2 separate regions of the Homo sapiens genome follow, and region 2 is linked to region 1. Evidence: fine-mapped expression QTL. Tissue or cell type: prefrontal cortex. Region 1 holds a variant in brackets; the other region holds the start of a gene. All regions are shown on one strand. Distances are from middle to middle.

Evidence for each region. PIP is the estimated chance that this variant, and not a neighbour inherited with it, causes the effect.
Region 2: LINC01827 starts here. The variant in region 1 is fine-mapped to the expression of LINC01827 in prefrontal cortex (BrainSeq, PIP 0.95).

What each region holds. Positions count from the first base shown.
Region 1 is chr2:195,368,918-195,371,688 of GRCh38, forward strand. The region is part of intron 1 of LOC105376755 (a long non-coding RNA gene); the gene reads right to left. LOC105373817 (a long non-coding RNA gene) reads left to right here. Exons shown (of 3, transcript XR_923733.3): 3 at 2,236-2,658. Among named protein-coding and RNA genes, the nearest start is that of LINC01825, 160 kb to the right of the region's middle. The variant G/C (reference allele first, on the strand shown) is at 1,599.
Region 2 is chr2:195,573,199-195,575,969 of GRCh38, forward strand. LINC01827 (long intergenic non-protein coding RNA 1827) reads right to left here and starts at 1,295. Exons shown (of 2, transcript NR_187191.1): 1 at 1,126-1,295.

The DNA.
Region 1 (2,771 bases):
CAGCCCCCAGGGCTGCTGGTTAGCTATTTTTATGGTTATTTCTTATCATCTGCTAAATATTGGGTGGATTATAAGTTTTCTTATCATATGCTAAATATGGGGTGGATTATAAGTTTTCTAGGAAAGGGGTAGGTATTTCCTGGAACTGAGGGTTCCTTCCCCTTTTTAGACCGTATAGGGTAACTTCCCGAGGTGGCTATGGCATTTGTAAACTGTCATGGCACTGGTGGGAGTGTCTTTTAGCATGCTAATGTATTATAATTACCATATAACAAGCAGCGAGGATGACCAGAGGTCACTTTCCACACCATCTTGGTTTTGGTGGGTTTTGGCTGGCTTCTTTACTGCATCCTGTTTTATCAGCAGGGTCTTTATGACCTGTATCTTGTGATACCAGTCCTGTTGACCTCCTAGCTCATCCTGTGATTGAGAATGCCTAACCTCCTGGGAACGCAGCCCATCAGGTCTCATCCTTATTTTACCCAGCCCCTATTCAAGATGGAGTCACTCTGGTTCATTTGAACTCTGACAACACCACTAAGAACCATTATAGGGATGCTTCAGTCTTCAAATTTTTCTGAGGTAGTTTTGGATGTAGTTAGAAATTAATCCTATGAGAGGGTAATAGAAAGCCAAGGCTCAAAGTTTTGAATCATCTATGGGCCAGTTGGCATCACTGTATGAACTGCATTCATAGTTTCTACCAGTTCCTGATTATAAAGGGAACCATTCATTGATTCACTCATTCATTAAATTAATATTTGAGGATCTAAGCATGTGAGAGAATAGATGGCTGAGCAAAAATCTAACACTTCTTGAAATTTTTAAATCAGAGGCATTTGATTTCATGAAAAATTAATTACATGCCTATTGTGCATTGAGACCTATGCTGTTAAGCTGATTGGCAAACCACTGATTTTAATGTAATTAGATAAAGCTTATGATAGATATATGCAAATGATGCTACTGAAAGGTAAAGTAAGAAGCAGGCAACTGCTCTATGAGGACACAGAAATATTTTTGTTGTTGTTATTGTCATTTATTTCTGTGTGTGTTTAATCTTGTGTTATTACATTCTAAGCACTGTACTAAGTATTTTTTGGGAATTCTGGTTTAATATTTACAGCATCCTAGGAAGTGAGCATTCATTTTCTCTACTTCAGCCTTACATGTGTGGAGGGAGAGGATGGGAGTGGGGAGAATGGCGGGACATTAAAGTTGGCCAGGTAAGAAGAGCCAGGCAATAAATGGTTTTATAGCGTAAGTAACTTGAAGGCAGGAACTACCAGAGAATTTTTATGCAGAATAGTAACATGGTCTCCTTTCATGTTACGAACAGCATTCAGCCTTTGCATTAGATTTGTGGGCATATGCCCTCAGCAGCTTTCTTGAAAGAAGTTCTGCTAGGTCATAAACATTAGACATTATAAAAGTGTTCTCCACAGCTGTTACAGAATAAGTTACATAAAGAATCAGAGGGAGCCCTGATTAAGATAACCTTGCCAAAGCAAGGTAGCGTGTGCAACCATCATATCAATAGCTCCAGAAGCACTGTTTGAAGGCATGGCTCATTCATTCCATGGCGTTGTTTTTCTCCT[G/C]TTGGTACTTTATAGGGATATGAAAATTAGTGATTATCTGTAAAATACATTATCAATTTATTCCTGATAAATGTGATAAAGTTGTTCATTTGCTGTACCCAGAGAATGAAACAGAGTTGTACCAAGGTTAAGCATTAAGTATTATAAAAGAAGAACACACACACAATCTTCTGTGAACACACACAACCTCCTGCCAACACACACAACCAGGAAGTTCTGCTTGATCTAATAAATGTGGATTCTGTGTTTTATATTGTTATAATCAGAATATACTAATATCAGCTTCCCTGGACACACTGAGTAATATGCCATGGCTATAGTGGAGTGGTTATCATTCTAGCTACAGACTAGAATCTCTGAGCAGCTTTTTAAGAATATTCACTTTTAGATCTCACCCCAGACTAATTCTTTCAGAATTTTTCTAGGCCAGTCCCAGTATTGGTATTTTTTTAAAGGTCTCCAGTTGATCTGTTACGTAACTGGGGCTGAGAACTGCAAACTCTTAGGGGATGCATAAGGCTGCATGAGTGGCTGAGTGTGGTGTGGCGAATTTCAGTTCTTTCCAGGGTAAAGACCTTCTTTAGGCCTTTGGGATTTTTAATGTAATCAAAACAAATTACTTGTTTGATTGTCTCAGCATACCTGTGAGGACATCTGTAAAGGCGAAGATCAAACTGATGAAGAAACTGTCAAGAAATGCTGTTGAATCTCAGGTACTATCGTTGGCCCATTTTAACAATTTTAAGGAATCAGGTTTTGAAATTTGGTCCACAAAGAATTATGTATTTACTCATACATTTTACCCGCAAATAGTATATGTTACCTCCAAAGGAGCAATGCTGGTTGAATTATTTATAAAATGATAAGCTTCTCAAGGAAGCTATTAAGAGAGAGAAACCAGGGCCTTTTTCCTACACAGTGATGGTTAATAAATCAAAATAGACACTTTGTTAATATGGCTAAATATAATAACAATACTGACAACTATAAAAGTCAAATTATTACAGAAAACAAAACTAAGTATCATATAATGCCTTTCTTATTGATCTGAGCAGTTCCAGTCAACCCTTACTAAAACTATTTTTATTAGAAGATTTAAGGGTTATGCTTTTATTGTTTTCAACTCATCTTGAATCTTTCAAGCTGGAGATTAACTCCCTAGGGACTACTTCT
Region 2 (2,771 bases), 200 kb after region 1:
TCTGGATGGTGAGAAGGGATTTTACAAATGTCAGTGTAAGCTCTTGCTACTGCTTCTCTCTGCATGTCTATTCTAGGTTGCTCTTGTAGGCTGGCTCCACATGTAAGGATTTTACTTTGGGTTCCCTCATAATTTAATGTTCATGTAGCTGAAGCTTGCCATAGAGGTCTCACACTAAATACCTGTGACCCGACAACTCCAATTCTCATCACTTAACTATGACTTTTGTGTCTCAGTGAAATTTTTTCAAACAATATCATCTAGTTGGCTTGGCCTAACCTATGGATCGACTCTCAGAGTAGGTCTCCCCACCCTGGTCCAATCATCATAACCAGGGAGTAGGGTCATATGATATAAACATAGATGACTAGGCCCATCTGTTCAGCAGGGGAACAGATTCTTTTAGAAGGGAATGTGGGCAGAAAGGCAATTATATACATCTCTAACCAGAAAAATCCCAGGGGTGGAAATGATAGGAAGAAATGGCACCAAATTTAAAGATAAAAGAAAAGCTGCCACTGTAATTCAAAATTAGACAATGTAACTGATCATAGACTTTTGCTATAATCGCTATTTTGGCCTTATAATCTCTGAAATTTACTTTACAGAACAGTGAAACACTTCTTTGAGGAGAAACATTATAGAAGAAAACAATCTTTGATCTAGAAACCTAAAAAGATATTTATGCTCATTATATTCCAGGTGCTGAAGAGTGTCAAAGCACAGCTAAATATTATGCCATTTGTGCAGACTCGGAATGAGTTTAAGCACTGAAAGAGCTACCAGAATACCCCAGCAGAACATCTCAAAACAAAGCATTATTTCTCTCTTAAGAAAATTACCAGGCTGGGCACGGTGGCTCACACCTGTAATCTCAGCACTTTGGGAGGACGAGGCAGGCGGATCTACCTGAGGTGAGGGGTTCGAGACCAGCCTGCCCAATGCGGTGAAACCCCGTCTCTACTAAAACTAAAAAAAATAGCTGGGTGTGGTGGCGGGCACCTGTAATCCCAGCTACTCAGGAGGCTGAAGCAGGGAGAATTGCAGTGAGCCGGATTGCACCACTGCACTCCAGCCTGGGCGACAGAGTGAGACTCCATCTCAAAAAAAAAAAGGGAAAATTACCTATTTGCACTTCTTGATTTCCAGGAAGGTGTTAGAGATCTTCATCCCATCCCCAGCCCAAGTCTAGACGTGTTCACCGGAAAGGAAGAAGTTTTTGAGTTCTCAGCAGTAGCTGTGGCTCTAAGGAAAGCAGTGTTGTATGGGTATTAGAGTAGTACAACCAAAGCTCTGCTGGAACAAAAGAGGAACACAGAAAGCTAGGAATGACAAGTGTTTTTCTTCCCTCTCATATGATTCAGTCAGGCTGTCTTTGACCTACATAGCCATCTGACTGGCCACTGTTTTCTTTTCTTTCTTTTCTTTTTTTAGAGATGGGATCTTGCTGTGTTGCCCAGGCTGGACTGAAACTCCTGGGTTCCAGTGATGCTCTCTCCTGAGCTTCCCGAGCAGCTGGGACCACAGGCATACACCACTGCACTGCACTGCACTTGATTAGGTATATTTTAAAATGTAAAATAATAGTGAAAGGATTCTCCCTAGTCCCCATAAACCTGGGAATGGATCGAGGTGAGGACACCAAAACTTTCCCCTGAGACATGGAAATTGCACTGAATGTTTCTTGATGGTTCTAATGCATTAAGAATTAAGAGCTCTTTGCCTAGATTACCCCCAAAATATTAAAAATAACAAAACAAAGTAGAACTAAGGAAAAATATAAGACACATAGAGAAAATGTTTTTCAAAAAATGTTATTTGACCTATGGCTAATTCTGATTTTAAAAGCAGTTAAACAAACGAAACACAACCTAGTGATGCTTACGACTGAAGAAACCATTGATACCTGAAAGAAGGGAAGACTTTAGATATAAAGGCAGAGTGGAATTTTTTTAACCAACATTTCATGCAGCAGCTCCACATGGCCTTCCCATGTCTCAATAGCTTTGATTTGTGGAAATAATGGTTATGCAATTTCCACATATTGTGCTCCAATCACAGCATGTAAGCAACAATAAAAAGAAAACAACTAAATGTACTTGAAGCTGGAGATTTTGATAAGGTTTTCTTTTCACTTCACAAAGTTTGTTAACTGGATATTTTTCTAAGGCAACTGAAATATTCCTGCTGAGTTTCAGACAGATATATGTAAAAGCAGCAAAGTGTCTGATTTTCTTAAATGTATCTATGGCAGCAACACTAGTTAATTTAGTTGTGAAAAAATAACCAAAAAGAAACTATCGGACTATAAGAATTCCACAGTTGGCAGACTGTTGGTATTTCTCTTTCTCTTTAAATATATATATAAATATATCTATAAATATATATAAATATCTATAAATATATCTATAAATATATATATTAAATATATATATGCCATCTGTTTACAAAAGATGAGAAATGTTGGAGAAAATTATTTCCCTTAGGGTATAATGTTATGGCCATTCAGAGAGAGGTCTCTGGTATTTTCAAGGAGAATTTGGTACAAGAACAAGACAGCATCAGGTCTGCACAGTCATTGGCTGCAAAAAACAAAGATGATTTCCTTTAGTCCCTGTTTTAGTTTTACTCTTTGAACTTCCAAGTTTATTTATTGTTATTATTTTTAATGTGGCACAGATTGTTTTAAGAATCAACTTGGTTCCCTTTTTTGAAGTCCTTTTTTTTTTTTAATTTGTTGAGACTGGTTTCTAAAGTGCTCCACCTCCACC